Regions from separate parts of the Homo sapiens genome. Here region 2 is linked to region 1. A link means that fine-mapping ties the variant in region 1 to the expression of a gene that starts in the linked region. Tissue or cell type: whole blood. Region 1 holds a variant in brackets; the other region holds the start of a gene. All regions are shown on one strand. Distances are between the middles of the regions.

The links. PIP is the estimated chance that this variant, and not a neighbour inherited with it, causes the effect.
Region 2: it holds the start of WWP2, and the variant in region 1 is fine-mapped to the expression of WWP2 in whole blood (INTERVAL, PIP 0.97).

What each region holds. Positions count from the first base shown.
Region 1 is chr16:69,823,977-69,832,078 of GRCh38, reverse strand. All of the region lies in intron 4 of WWP2 (WW domain containing E3 ubiquitin protein ligase 2), which reads right to left. Among named protein-coding and RNA genes, the nearest start is that of WWP2, 66 kb to the right of the region's middle. RefSeq lists enhancers at 7,709-7,778, 7,789-7,888. The variant C/TC (reference allele first, on the strand shown) is at 4,925.
Region 2 is chr16:69,757,864-69,765,965 of GRCh38, reverse strand. It overlaps WWP2 (WW domain containing E3 ubiquitin protein ligase 2), which reads right to left and starts at 3,634. Exons shown (of 24, transcript NM_001270454.2): 1 at 3,575-3,634. It also overlaps the pseudogene NONOP1. RefSeq lists silencers at 3,158-3,207, 3,228-3,387, 3,408-3,547 and an enhancer at 3,251-3,829.

The DNA of each region.
Region 1 (8,102 bases):
GGCAGATGGTTCGCTTGAGCTCAGGAGTTCGAGACCCGCCTGGGCAACATGGTGAAACCCTGCCTCTATTAAAAACACAAAAATTAGCTGGGCGTGGTGGTACCTGCCTATACTCCCAACTACTTGGGGGGCTGAGGCGGAATAATCGCTTGTGCCCAGGAGGTCAAGGCTGCAGTGAGCTGAGATCAGGGTACTGCACTCCAGCCTGGGTGACAGAGTGACACTGTCTCAAAAAAAAAAAAAAAAAAAAAGGTTTTGTTTTTTTCCATGCCAGCATGCCTAAGGTACTAACAGCAACTATAACAATAAAAACTTGCAAGAATTTGACAAAATATAGTTTAAAATATAAAAAGGTAGAAGACACATCAGTCAAGCTGTTTGGGGAATAACTCTCACTCTTATTTTTCCTCCCTTCAAAGCCTCAGATTTGCAAGTGGCTTCAAGTTAATAATTTCCTATTGAGAAGAGTTTGTACGTGCAGCAAGGATGAGTCATATTTTTCTAAGAGTTACTTTTTCCCTTTCTTGACCTGGATTTTTAAAAATATGTTGTTTGCATGTGGTACTAATAAATATAGATAAATAGGGCATGGAAATTGCCGTCCTTATTCCAACAAAAGAAAAAAAACTACATAAACTGTAACTGCCAGACCATGCTACTATAATGCAATTCCGTTACAAAATCCAGAACTCTTGCCTGGAGAGTTTCACAGCAAATGTACGAAAGAACTTTCTAGTTTGGGGTATTTTCTCATTATTGTCCCTCCCCACCCCATACCACCGAAATGTATGTGCATGTCAAAGGAAAAATAGTTCTGTTTTCTTTTGGTTCCTAATTCAGAATACAAATGATAGGATTTACCTGGAAATTTGAGAAACATGAAACAAGAAAGAAAGGAGAATTTTTTAAAGGGAGGCCAAGGACGCCAGGATTAAGAGTCTCTGAAGCCCGATGAAGATGTGACTGATTTGGCCATTAACATAAGACCTGCTTAGTGAAACAAGCCTCCTTCTTCCTGCCTCCCTCTGCCCTCAATCCCATAGGCCCATCAAAAGCGGGTGAGAGTAAGCAGCACTTCATTAACAGGCCCGTGTTCATTCTACACATAACTGCAAACACTGGTACACAGAGGAAGGGAACCGGGGGAAATTCCAGAAGGGCAGAGAGTAAACAGTCTCCTTTCCATTCCCCAGTTCCCTGAAACTCAGACACACACAGGCTGGAGTCCACCCCAGGTCTAGAGAGAAGGCTCTTTCACATTTCCTTTGCAGTAAAGGAAGCCAGATGATTCCAGGATTTACTGTTACGATGGCTCTTCGGCTTCCAACCTTAGCCAGAGCCTAACAACAGAAAGTCTCTTCTACCCAGCTAGGCCAACAGTGAACACTGGTATTCCTGTTGGGGCACCAATGCTGACTCTGCTTACTCCACCTCCCCGCGGCCCCCCAACACTCACACTCTGGCAGGGTCTTACCCAGAACCCAGAATGTAATGAGAACTCTGGCTTGGTCTTGCAGTCTCTTCTTTGGGCTACTACCGCTGGGAATCTACCCTTTATCATTGCTAAATTAAAGTTTTGGTCTCCTGAGGGTTGTATGAACTCTTCTAGAGAAAATAGCCTCATTTTTACAAAGCCAGTTTACAAACTTTTTCTCTGTTTCTTGTTCATTCATTCAGGAAACATTTCCTGGGCTGGGCACAGTGGCTCATCCCTGTAATCCCAACACTTTGGGAGGCCGAGGCAGGAGGATGGCTTGAGACCAGTTTGGGACCAGCCTGGGCAACAAAGTGAGACCCTCATCTCTATAAAACAGAAAAAAACTAGGCCGGGCATGGTGGTTGTCGCCTGTAATCCCAGCTCTTTGGGAGGCCAAGGCAGAGAGATCGCCTGAGCGCTGGAGTTCAAGACCCACCTAGGCAATGTGGTGAAACCCCATCTCTACTAAAAATACAAAAACTAGCCAGGCATGGTGGCATGTGCCTGTAATCCCAGCTACTTGGGTGGCTGAGGCAGGAGAATCACTTGAATCCAGGAGGCGAACGCTGCAATGACCCAACATCGCGCCACTGCATTCCAGCTTAGGTGAAAGAGTTAGACTCTATCTGAAAAAAAAAAAAAAATTAGCTGGGCGCAGTGGCGTGTGCCTATGGTCCCAGCTACTCAGGAGGCTGAGACAAGAGGATTACTTGAACCCAGGAGGTTCAAGTAACATTTGCTGGGTGCCCACTATCTTCCAGACAGTGCTTGAAGCTATGTTATCATGGAAAATGGAAACAGACGTTGTCCCTGCTTTTAGGAACGTTACAATTAATTCAGTGGGAGAAGTGGAAGTAACAAGGAAATGTAAAGTTGCAACTGTAAGAAAAGGTTTCATGCAAGAGATATTAACATATGGTCCCCTGAGCAGCCAGATGCTTGGCCTGGTCAGGACATCAGGAAAAGTTTCTTGAGAAACTGATAACTGTCATCTAAGTTTCAAGAAGACAGCTAGCAGGGTAGGGCAGGGCAGGGAGGAAGACCATCCAGGCAGGGGAAATGTTGTGTGCAAAGGTCCTGTGGCACAATGAGCTGGGTGCATTCAGGAAAGTGGGCAGAGATGAACGGGGCTGGACTGGAATGAGATCCAAATGGGTGGGAGGACTGAGTGGTCACTGGACATTGCAATGCCTTGTGACATGCTGTGTTAGAGAGTTTTTCTGTAACCTAAGAGCCACTGCACAGTGCTAAAGGGTTTTTTAACTGAGGTGTGACAAGATCAGCCTTGCTGGATTAATAATCATTCTGGCTTTGGTGTGGAAAACAAGCCGGAGGAAAGGAAGGACAGAAACAGGCAGAGCAGACAGGAGGCTGCAGATGAAAATTTTGGCAGCCAGGAAAGGACTAGAGCAGAAGTGGAGCTGAAGAAGTGGGCAGACTTGCAAAAGTAAAAATCAAGATAATCTGAAAAGAGATTAGAAAACGGGGTGGGCAAGAGGGGTCGGGTATCGAAGACGGCTCCTGGGATTCTAAAGCACTTAACTGGACAAATAGAGGCTCTATATGATGAAATACAGAATACGGGAACAGGACCAAGTCTGAGGAGGTGACTTGCACATGTTGAGGTGCTTCTGACAGGGAAACACCTGTCAGGGAACACCACAGGGAAACACCAAGAGAGTCGTCAGATACGTGGGAAGAGAGCTCAGAAGTGATTCAAATCTGTGGCTCACCTGCACACGGTGGTTTGCATAGAGAGGAAGGTGAAACAGAGATGAGATCATGGAAGAAGAGGATGGAATAATAGGAAACTCCCATATTTAACAGTTAAATAGATGATGACCTTGCCAAGACGGGTGGATCACCTGAGGTGAGGAGTTCAAGACCAGCCTTGCTAACATGGCAAAACCCTATTTCTACTAAAAATATAAAAATTAGGCCAGGCACGATGGCTCACATCTGTAATCCCAGCACTTTGACAGGCCAAGGCAGGCGGATCACCTGAGGTCAGGAGTTCAAGACCAGCCTGACCAACATGGAGAAACCCGTCTCTACGAAAAATACAAAATTAGCGGGGTGTGGTGGTGCATGCCTGTGATCCCAGCTACTCAGGAGGCTGAGGCAGGAGACTCGCTTGAACTAGGGAGGCAGAGGTTGTGGTGAGCTGAGATCGCGCTGTTGTACTCCAGCCTGGGCAACAAGAGCGAAACTATGTCTCAAAGAAAATTAATAAAAAATTAATAATAGATGATGACCTTGCAAGAAAGACAGAGAAGAACAGCTAGAGAGATGGGAGGAAGATCAAGAAGGGTTCCTGGGAAGGCAGGAAAGGGGAGCCTCTAAGCATGGATGGGGCATCTGCCCTTAGGAGGAGGGAAAGAAAGGAAGGTGGATTGGGCACTCATGTCCTCATTTCAGTACATAACGGACTCACCAACCAGGACCACCCTTATTTCTCTTGATTCAGGGTCCCAGTGCTCTATAGGCAAGGCCCATCCAGCTACACACATTTTCCTTTACTTAAAAAAAAAAGTACATATGCACACACAATTCAGCACCAGTTACCCATTACAGTCACCCACGTAACAAGGTACCCCAGAAGGAGTCTCGGGAACCAGCTGTGGATCCTCTTAAAACAAGATACAAAGATTTCATCCGTCTTGGTAAATCTCTCAAGCCGTAGCATATTTTAATTTTTTAAAAGGTACCTGGGGAAATAAATACAGATCTGGGAAGGTTAAGTCTTTAGAATAAATTATCAGTTCACATCATTACTGCTGCCTTGTCATTAGTGCTCCTCATCTCCGAGGGGAGGGAGAGTCCCTGCCACACCATTAATCCCCTGCCCAGGCCCTGCCTGGCTCCAACAGATCACCCATGCTCTGTGCCCTCAGGGAACCGCAGCGGCCACAACCGCCTCTCTCAGTTGCCTGGTATCAAAGCCATGTTTATAAACACCTTCCAAAGAACAAACCTCCTTTTAAATGTTCTTTGCAGAGCAAAATGTAGGAGTCCTCTTAGAAAATTATTTTTTAAGGTTACAATTCTGCTTTTAAAAAAATTCCCTTGTATACATTGGAGTTTTTTTACAAATTATAATTTCAGATGAGGGACCTATTATGCCCCAATTAAGATTTGGATTAGTGATTATAAAGCGTATACAACAACATGGAAAATTATTCATACCACAAAGTTAAGTTTTTATTTTTTTTGAGATGGAGTCTCTGTCGCCCAGGCTGGAGTGCAGTGGCGCGATCTTGGCTCACTGCAACCTCTGACATTATAGAATGCACCCTATTACTAAAATCATGTAAAAATAAGTATACAAAGGGGCAAAGAAATAAATGAACCAGGGAAAAATGATAAGTTGTGTTTGAGCAGTAAGATTATGAAACAAAGATTTTCTTTGTTCAATTTCCATTAATTCCACAGTAGTTTTTTTTTTTT[C/TC]ATAATTTCCATTTCAGTTAAACATTAGACATGTATGCAGGAGTGTCAACAAGTGAAATGACACAAGGCATGAGATTTTCTTGCAAATACTTCCCCAAAAGATGGGAGCTAAAGATGAAGGACAAGTAGATGTGTGCTGGTTATCATTTAAGCTGGGTAACTGGTGCTAGATGGTCCATTATTCTCTCCGCCCCCCCCCCTTTTTTTTTTTTTTTTGAGGTGGAGTCTCGCTCTGTCACCCAGGCTGGAGTGCAGTGGCACGATCTCGGCTTACTGCAAGCTCCGCCTACCGGGTTCACACCATTCTCCTGCCTCAGCCTCCTGAGGAGCTGGGACTACAGGCACCTGCCACCATGTCCGGCTAATTTTTTTTTGTATTTTTATTAGAGACGGGGTTTCACCGTGTTAGGCTAATTTTTTTTTTTTTTTTTGTATTTTTATTAGAGAGAGGGTTTCACCATGTTAGCCAGGATGGTCTCGATCTCCTGACCTCGTGATCCACCCGCCTCGGCCTCCCAAAGTGCTGGGATTACAGGCCTTAGCCACCGTGCCCGGCTCCACTTTTTTTTTTTTTTTTTTTTTTGAGACGGAGTCTCACTCTGTTGCCCAGCCTGGAGTGCAATGGCACTATTTCGGCTTACTGCAACCTCTGCCTCCTGGGTTCAGCCAATTCTCCTGTCTCAGCCTCCCAAGTAGCTGGGACTACAAGCACCCACCATCACGCCCGGCTAATTTTTTTGTGTGTATTTTTAGTAGAGACAGAGTTTCACTATGTTGGCCAAGCTGGTCTCGTACTCCTGGCCTTGTGATCTGCCTGCCTCGGCCTCCCAAAGTGCTGGGATTACAGGCATAAGCCACTGCGCCTGGTCTACTTTTTTTTTTTTTTTGAGACGGAGTTTCACTCTTGTCACCCAGGCTGGAGTGCAGTGGTGTGATCTCAGTTCACTGCAAGCTCTGCCTCCTCAGTCCAAGCGATTCTCCTGACTCAGCCTCCTGAGTAGCTAGGATTATAGGCACCCACCACCACACCCGGCTAATTTTTGTATTTTTAGTGCAGATGGGGTTTCATGATGTTGGCCAGGCTGGTCTCAAACTCCTGACCTCAGGTGATCTGCCCACCTCAGCCTCCCAAAGTGCTGGGATTACAGGCATGAGCCACCGCGCCTGGCTGCTTCTACTTTTATTTATGTTTGAAATTTTCCATAGTAAAAAGTTTAAAAAGTATTTTCCAGGCAGGGTGTGGTGGCTCACGTCTGTAATCCCAACACTTGGAGAGGCCAAGGTGAGAAAATCCCTTGAGCCCAGTTTGAGACCAGCCTGGGCAACATAGGGAGATCCTGTGTCTACAAAAAATGTAAAAACTTAGACAGGTGTAGTGGCATGCACCTGTGGTCCCATCTACTTGGGAGGCTGAGGTGGGAGGATCACTTGAGCCCAGGAGGTCAAGGCTGCAGTGAGCTGTGATCGCACCACTACACCTCAGCCTGGGCAACAGAACAAAACCCTGTATCCAAAAAAAAAAACCAAAAAAAAAAAACCCACTTCTGCTATATCATATCGTCTTTACAATAAATAATATTAGCTTTCAAAATAAAAAATAATGTGCTCATCAAAAAAATTCAAATACAGAAAGGTAAACTATGACACCTACTCCACAAATGCACACATTCCAAAGCCTTTCCCATGGTATCGCCACTTTAGTTTTTTGGTTTTTGGGGTTTTTTTTTTTTGGAGATGGAATCTCGCTCTGTTGCCCAGGCTGGAGTGCAGTGGCACCATCTCAACTCACTGCAACCTCTGCCTCCTGGGTTCAAGGGATTCTCCTGCCTCAGCCTCCTGAGTAGCTGGGACTACAGGTGCCTGCCACCATGCCCAGCTAATTTTGTATTTTTAGTAGAGACGGGGTTTCACCATGTTGGTCAGGCTGGTCTCGAACTCCTAGCCTCAAGTGATCCGCCCACCTCAGCCTCCCAAAGTGCTGGGATTACAGGTGTGAGCCACTGCACCCAGCCAGTATCGCCCACTTTGAAAAACTTTGTATGAAGTCATTGCAAACACAAGCACAAATATACACATAAAAGCTACAGATGCAAGGCCGAGCACAGTGGCTCATGCCTGTAATCCCAGAGCCTGAGGTGGGTGGATCACCTGAGCTCAGGAGTTCGAGACCAGCCTGGCCAACAAAGTGAAACCCCATCTCTACCAAAAATACAAAAATTAGTCAGGCATGGTTGTGCATGCCTGTAATCCCAGCTCCTTGGGAGGCTGAGGCAGGAGAATCACTTGAACCCGGGAGGTGGAGGCTGCAGTGAGCCAAGATCACACCACTGTACTGCAGTCTGGGTGACAGAGTAAAACTCTGTCTCAAAAAAAAAAAAAAAAAAAAAGCCACAGGTGCAAAGTTGAGGTCATTCTAGGCCCAAAGCTCTGCCCTTTGATTTTTCACTTGTAATCTATGAATCTTTTCAAATATATACAGATGCACTCTATCCACTCAAGAGGGTTTGGGGATTCCTCCCTCCAAGAGAATGAATTCATGCAATACATGTGTTATAAACATTAATTAATTGAGGGAGAGAGGAAAAGGGCAAGAGGAAGGAAAAAAGGAAGGAACAAAGGGAAGGGGGAGGGAGGGGGAGGGGGGAAGGGAGGGAGGGAGGGATATTATTTTCTGAGAAGTGTGTGCCTTACTGTCCTGGATGTAATAAACAGCACTCCCAGGCCAGGCCAGGCACTGAAGTCAGAGTCCCACTCTGTACCTAATAGTGGCACTAACTGCCCACTTATGTGACTGTGACACTCTTACTCTGGTCCAGGATTACCTTCCCTTTTGACGGACCACTCTCCCACAAAGAATAAGCCTCCTACACTAAGAAAAATACTCCAAGAATCCTGGTAGTCTGAAGGAAGAGGGAAAATTAAACACTGCAATGAGATAAATGAGGTCTGATGTTAACATGGCTATTCCGGCAGCCACAGCACCTCCCCTGGGAGAACCTGGGAGGCTGGAATGGACGGTCAGGCGGAAGCCGCCCGAATGACTGGTGCGGAGCAGAGGCCCAAACACCAGATGAAGTGTTTCAGTTTTGTTTTTGGCAAGGGGAAGGAAACAGCTCACATTCAGGCAACAATCTCATTTTCCTGTCACCAGGTCAAGGCCACCATTCCCGGCCTGCAG
Region 2 (8,102 bases), 66 kb after region 1:
CTGAGCCAGGTGCAATGGTTCATGCCTGTAATCTCAGCACTTTCGGAGGCTGAGGCAGGAGGATGTCTTGAGGCCAAGTGTTCAAGACCAGCCTGGGCAAAAGTGAGAACCCCCGCCCCCAACTCCCCATCTCTCCAAAAGCAAGACGGAGTCTCACTTCATCACCTAGGCTGGAGTGCAGTGGCGCGATCTTGGTTCACTGCAACCTCCATCTCCCGAGCTCAAGCAATTCTCGTGCCTCAGCCTCCCGAGTAGCTGGAATTAGACACATGTGCCAACAAGCCCAGCTAATTTTTGTATTTTGGGTAGAGATGGGGTTTCACCATGTTGGTCAGGCTGGTCTTGAAATCCTGACCTCAAGTGATCCGCCCGTCTCAGCCTCCAAAAGTTCTGGAATTACAGGCGTGAGCCACCGCACCTGGCCAGGATCCTATTTAAACTGCAACCTACATCCCTCTTCCCTGCTTTATTACAACATAATACATATTATACTTAGTTATCAATGTGCCCTTCTCTAATAAAATTGAAGATCCACAAGGGTGGGGATCCTTACCTTTCTTGTACTGCTATATTCCTGGCATTCAGAACAGGTTTGTCCAATAGAAATAAGATGGGAGCCACAAGTGCAAGCCACATTTATAATTTTTTATTTTTCTAGGAAATACATTTTAAAAAGAAAAAAGTGCTGGGTTTCAAGTCAAGGTTAAGTGGGAAAAAAAAAGACAAAAAGGTGAAACTTTTTTTCTTTTTCTTTTTCTTTTTTTTGAGACAGGGTCTCACTCTGTCACCTAGGCTAGAGTGCAATGAGTGGCACGATCACAACTCACTGCAGCCTCCACCTCCCCAGGCTTGGGTGATCCTCCCACCTCAGCCTCCTGAGTAGCCAGGCGGGCGCCACTGCACCTGGCTAATTTTTGTATTTTTTGTAGAGACAGGGTTTCACCATGTTGCCCAGGCTGGTCCCAAATTCCTGGGCTCAAGCAATCTATCCACCTTGACCTCCCAAAGTGCTGGAATTATAGGCATGAGCCACCATGTCTGACCAACTATTTATAATTACGTTGTATTTAACCCAATAAATCCAAAATGTTATCATACATGTTTATACATTATATGATCGTTTACTATAACATAAAAAGTATCAATGAGACATTTTACTTTTCTTCATGCTAAGTCTTCAAAATCCAGAATGTATTTTATGCTCACAGCATAGCTCCAGTGCTCAGCAGCCCCATGTGGCTAGTGTACACCATACTGGACTCTACAACAATGCCTGGCAAAGACAGAGTGGGTACTTATAAATATTCACTGAATGAAAGAATGTTTTCCCAGGAAGAGGAAGCTATGGTAGAGTACAGCGTTTTCTAAACTTCATTTACTCACATTCTACATTCACAACTTTTTCTGTGTGATCTTTTTCCTTAAAATGTTACACTTTTTATTCCTGAAAAATTATGTAAAAATAAAACTTTCAGTTGGGCATGGTGACTTACACCTGTAATTGCAACACTTTGAGAGGCCGAGGTGGGAGGATCGCTTGAGCCCCGGAGTTTGAAAACAGCCCGGGCAACATAGCAAAACCCCTGTCTCTACAAAAATTAGCCAGGCGAGGTGGCACCCACCTGTAGTCCCAGCTGTTTGGGAGGCAGACATGGGAGGATCACCCGAGCCCAGGCAGGTCAAGGTTACAGTGAGCCGTGATTGTGCCACTGCACTCCAGCCTGGGCAACAGAGTAAGATCCTGTCTCAAAATAAAATAAAAATAAAATTTTCTATTGTGTCAATAAATGAAAAAGAATGGATCTAAGGATTAAGGGTCTGGGCTTGAGTCCCTACTCATTTACTAGCTCTGAAATCTAAAGTAAGGACTTCATTAAGCCTCAGTCTCTTCATGTGATATAGGGACAATACTGACCATCCCAATTTCAAAGGGAAGGTTAAGTGAGATGTTGGTATACGCTCTTTGTAAATGGGAAAGTAATCATGAAGTGAAAGAGACTGAGAAGCCAATCCAAGCCTTTCTCTCGAGCCTGTTTTCATATGGACCAATGACACAGATAATCACAAGCTTCTCTGACAAGAAAAAGAGTAGAAGACTTGGGTTCAAATCCTTTGTCACCACTTACGCCGGTGTGACTTTTAGAAATGCATTTATTCACCAAATATTTATCAAGTGCTCACAACATGCCAGGCACTAGGCTAGCAGCCAAATAAAATATGAAACCTGCCCTTGAAGGATTTGCAATCTAGCAGGAAGAGGCCAGCAAACAAGAAAGAGCAATAAATTGTTTTAAAAAATCAAGTCGTCTCTCGTAAGTCTGTTTGTTCCCTGTGAAATGAGAATACATCTTCCCAACCTCACTCATAGGCGCTGCTGCAAAAACTAATTTTTAAATGTTTGTCAAATAACTCCAAAAACTTGAACTCATAATACATTAGGAAAGTACTTTTTCCTACTTGTAACCCAAAACGATGCTGGCTGCTGTGAATGTCCAGTTTGAACATTCGTTCCAGTTACACTGCACTCATGAAACTCCTTTTGCTTCTGCAAATTTTAGTAAACATGAGAAACAGGAAGATGAACAGGCTTTAACACAAGTATTCAATCTCAAAATCATGATCCAGGTCACAGTTCTAAGGAACATAACACAGACCTCTCAGGCACCCTACCTAGTTACAGTTCGTCAAGATAAGCAGTCACAAGATAAGCTAAGGGAAACTGAATAATTTAAACGGAAGAAAGAGAAAAGTCATAAAGCAGTCTAGGTAGACACTTCTCTGTCCAAGATTTCAGCAGTCACTATGTTGCTGAGGTAACGCTGGGCTAGGTCAACAGTGTAAGCTAAAAGCCATTTTACAGGCAAAGTGCCCACACTTATTTTTTTAATTTATTTTCTTTTTTTGTTTTTTAAAGCCTCGATGATGGCCCGTTCAGGGAAAATCTCAAAGAAAAATGAGCTGAAGGGCTAGGCTCCCAAGAAGTGGAAACCCTACCCACGCAGGACTAAGTGGGCGCGAGGGAAGCAAGACGATCAAGATTCTGTGATCCCTCCTGAAGTTTAAAAACTGAATGGGACCGTCATCAAAGTCTCGGGTAACAATCATTTCCAAACAGGAAGGAAGGGAGAGACTCTCAGAGGGGGTCCAGGCAGCATCTTTTTCCCTCTGGCTCCACGCCATAAACCCATTTTCAGGCACCCCCTTCCAGCTCAGTTCCAAGTCGCCCCTTCCCCTGGTCCCGATCCCTCCACAAAGATCGCTCCTCTCCATGCCTGGGAACCTAAGCTCCTCTCCCCTTCCGGGAGGACTCGCTCCAGCTGCACCCTTGGCGGCCGGGGCACCCATTTCGGAGCAACCCCCGCGCGGGCCGCGGCGCGCCCACCCCACTCGGGCGGGAGCCGGGACACCCCTCCTCGGAGGCCGGAACCGCCGCGCCAGGCCCCTCCCACAGGAAGCCGCCGCCCCCCGACGCCCGGGCCGCGCCGCCCCCGGCCCACCCCGCGCCGCCCGCCGCCCCCGGCCCGCCCCGTGCAGGCAGCCAGCCCACCGCGCCCCCCGCGCCAGCGCTCGCTACCTGCCGTGGCCACAGAAGCGGCGCCGAACTCCTCTCCTACTTCCGCCTTCCACCGCCCGCACTCGGGCCGGGTCACGTGACCGCGCGCGGTCACCTGACCCGGAAGAGGCTGGCCAGGCTCGCAGGTGCGGGCCACCTAGGCCTGGCCTGGGCACCTCTGGCCTCGAGGAGGCCTTTTTATCGTCTCTGTAGTTGAAAGTGGAAGGGTTTCTGCTCACCGGATGGTCCCAGGCAATCAAATAAATTGAGGGCTCACTGAATGCCACCTACTCTGCCCATCAACCTTATAGAGGCAGGGACAGGTACTAGCCCCATTTTACAGGTGAAACGAGACCTTCAGACTGTTAAGTCAGCAAATACTTAATTGAGCTCCTTTAGTAGGGTTGCCAGATAAAGTACAGGACACCCACTTAAATTTGAATTTCAGATAAACAACAGTGTAATATGTATGTCCCAAATACAGAATGGGACATATTTATACTAAAAAAAGTATTTTTTGATTATCTGAAGATCAAATTGAATTGAGTATCTGTATTTCTATTTCCTGGCAACCTTATGCCTATTATGTGCCAGGCACTGTTCTAAGATCCAGGACCACAAACATCTCAGCCTTTGTGGGGCATCTGTCCTTGTGACATGAAGCAAAAGTACAAAAGCTTAAAAACTCCTGCTTGGCTCCATAAAAAGCCCCTCCACACTAATCCAATCGCATTCCCTTAATCTACAACTACAGGGCACAGAGAACTTAATGAATTATAATCCAGGTAGGTAGGTAGGTAGGTAGGTGGATAGATAGATGATATTTTTTTTTTTTTTTTTGAGATGGAGCCTCGCTCTGTCGCCCAGGCTGGAGTGCAGTGGTGCAGTCTCAGCTGACTGCAACCTCCGTCTCGCCGGTTCATGCAATTCTCCTGCCTCAGCCTCCCGAGTAGCTGGGATTACAGGCGTGCACCACCACGCCTGGCTAATTTTTGCATTTTTAGTAGAGACAGGGTTCCTCCATGTTGACCAGTCTGGTCTCGAACACCTGACTTCAAATGATCCGCCCACCTTGGCCTCCCAAAGTGCTGGGATTACAGGCATGAACCACCGCACCTGGCAGAGAAATATTTTTTTTAAGAGATGGGTCTGGATAGGTTGCTTTGGCTGGGCTCGAACTCCCAGCTTCAAGCAGTCCTCTTGCTTCAGCCTCCCAAGTAGCTGAGACTACAGGCGAATGCCACTGTGCCTGCCCAATAACTTTATTTATTTATTTATTTATTTATTTATTTGCTTGCTTGAGACAGAGTTTCACTCTTGTAGCCCAGGCAGGAGTGCAGTGGCTCAATCTTGGCTCACTGCAACCTCTGCCTCCCAGGTTCAAGCAATTCTCCTTCCTCAGCCTCCTGAGTAGCTGGGACTACAGGCACCCACCACCATGCCTGGCTAATTTTTGTATTTTTAATAGAGATGGGGTTTCACCATGTTGGCCAGGCTGGTCTCAAACTCCTAACCTCAGATGATCCACCTGCCTTGGCCTCCCAAAGTGCTCAGATTATAGGCGTGAGCCAATGCGCCCGGCCTCCAAGAACATTTTAAATAGACATTCTTGACTGATGTTCTGGACAAGTTGAATGAAGGCTCAGTTTAATCACCATTGATTAAAATTAATACTAATGACGTAATTAGCCTCAAAGACTTGTACTAATCTGTTATTTTTGGGTCTTCGAATTGGGATGGATTCTATCATGCATACAAATTAAATTGGCTGGTGGGGCGTGGAGGCTCACGCCTGTAATCCCAGCACTTTGGGAGGCAGAGGCAGGTGGATTACCTGAGGTCGGGAGTTCGAAACCCACTTGGCCAACCTGGTGAAACCCCATCTCTACTAAAACTACAAAAAAAAAAAAAAAAAAGATTCGCCGGGCATGGTCCGGGTGCGGGTAATCCCAGGTACTCCAGAACCTGAGGCAGGAGAATTGCTTGAACCCGGGAGGCGGAGGTGGCAGTGAGCCATGATAACGCCTCTGCACTCCAGCCTGGGCGACAGAGTGAGACTCTGTATCTAAATAAATAAATAGGTTGAACACTTAGTCTCTACTTTTTGTAGTACCACTCCAAATCCAAGAGATTAACTTTCAAGGAGATACAGTCCTGTCTTTGTACATTAAACCCTATATTAGTCTCATTTATAAAACTACTATAACTAAAACTTCTCCAGTTCCATTGATGGCAGTTTTACTAATTCTGTTCTAGATAAATTAGAGACTATTTCCTTGACTTACTAGCATTTGTTGGTTTCGGTTTGTTTTCTTCTTTCATATTTCATTTTTTATCTTTTGTTGCTTTTTTTTAACAACCCTGCAGAAAAGATTTAGTGGCATCTGAGTAAGTGTTCACCAAAGGGGAGAAGGGACAAGCAAAGAGCACACACTGCACATTAAAAGAATAAAATCTGACAGGGTGCGGTGGCTGGCACCTGTAATCCCAGTACTTTGGGAGGCCAAGGCGGGCAGATCAGACTGTCAGGGGCTCGAGATCAGACTGGGCAACATGGTGAAAACCCATCTCTACAAAAAATACAAATATTAGCTGGGCATGGTGGCACACACCCGTAGTCCCAGCTAATCAGGAGCCTGAGGCTTGAGAATCGCTTGAACCTGGGAGGCGGAGGTTGCAGTGAGCCAAGATTGCACACTGGACTCCAGCCTGGATGACAGGGTGAGACTCTGTCTCAAAAAAAAAAAATTGATATGATAAACTAGAAAATGAGAAATAGCCTCCAGCCATACTCTGTTACGGCAGGTAGCACAGGCACGTTCTAGATAATGAAGAGACTGAGTGGTGAGAAAGGTTGAGCCAGGTGCAATGGCTCACGCCTGTAATTCTAGCACTTTGGGAGGCCAAGGCAGGTGGATCACCGTACATCAGGAGTTCGAGACCATCTGGCCAATATGGTGAAACCCCATCTGTACTAAAAATACAAAAATTAGCCAGGCGTGGTGGCGGGCACCCATAATCTCAGCTACACAGGAGGCTGAGGCAGGAGAATTGTTGAACCTGGGAGGCAGAGGTGGCAGTGAGCTGAGATCGCACCACTGTGCTCCAGCCTGGGCGACGAGAGCAAAACTCAGTCCCCTTCCCGCCACCCCAAAAAAAGAGAAAGACTGAATTTGGGTAATTGCTGAAAGGCAATATTCAGTAGCACTGAAGGATTTTTGGGGTAGGACAGATAAATGACAATTGAGGAATCCAGCTGGCGTGAAGACTTCATGAAGAAAGTTTGCATGAAGACCCAAGTCGACATTCAGCAAAATTCACCGGATCTTATAATCATAAAATTTCAGATTTGCAAGGAAACGTAGAAGTCACTAAATACACCTTCTGTTCAATTCAGCAAGGAATTATTTGCTACCAAATTATGTGTGTTGCTTAGGGAGGTGGGGTGAGACTATTAAGACAAATTAGACAGACTCTGGCCCCACGTTGCTCAAAATGAAGTGAAGGCACATAAGCAGCAGTCAGTATAACAGAATGGATAATTAGGTGGCTCAGGGACAGCACCGTGTCTCACACCTGTAATCCCAGCACTTTGGGAGGCCAAGGCTAAAGGACTGCTTGAACCTGGGAGTTTCAGACCAGCCTGGGCAACATGATGAGACTCTCATCTCTACAAAAGTAAAAATGAAAAAACTAGCTGGGCATGGTGGTGTGGGCCTGTGGTGCCAGCTACTCGAGAGGCTGAGGTAGGAGGCTCACTTGAGCCTGGGAGTTCAAGGTTGCAGTGAACTATGATCATGCCACTGCACACCAGCCTGGGCAACAGAGAGAGACCGTGTCTCAAAAAAAAAAAAAAGAAAGAAAGAAAGAAAGAGAGAGAGAGAAAAGGAAAGGAAAGAAAAAAGAAGAGAAGAGAGAAAAAAGTGGCTCTGAATCAGTTTGTCTGGGTGTTACGTTATTTTCACCACTTACTGACCATGTCAGCTACACCTAGTGGCTTTAGTTAGCTATCCCTTGTCTGTAAAACAGTACCTATCTTGGCCGGGCGCGGTGGCTCACGCCTGTAATCCCAGCACTTTGGGAGGCCGAGGCGGGTGGACCACGAGGTCAGGAGATCGAGACCATCCTGGCTAATACGGTGAAATCCTGTCTCTACTAAAAATACAAAAAAAGTCGGGCATGGTGGCGGGCGCCTGTAGTCCCAGCTACTTGGGTGGCCGAGGCAGGGGAATGGCGTGAACCCGGGAGGGGGAGCTTGCAGTGAGTTGAGATCGCGCCACTGCACTCCAGACTGGGCGACAGAGCAAGACTCCGTCTCAAAACAAAACAAAACAAAAAAAAGCTTTTCTCGGGACGGGAGAGGCCGTGTAGCGTCGCCGTTACTCCGAGGAGAGACCAGTCGGTAGAGGAGAAGTCCAGGTTAGAGGGAAGTGGGAGGCACTTTGCTGTCTTCAATCGAAGTTGAGGGTGCAAAAATGCAGAGTAATAAAACTTTTAACTTGGAGAAGCAAAACCATACTCCAAGAAAGCATCATCAACATCACCACCA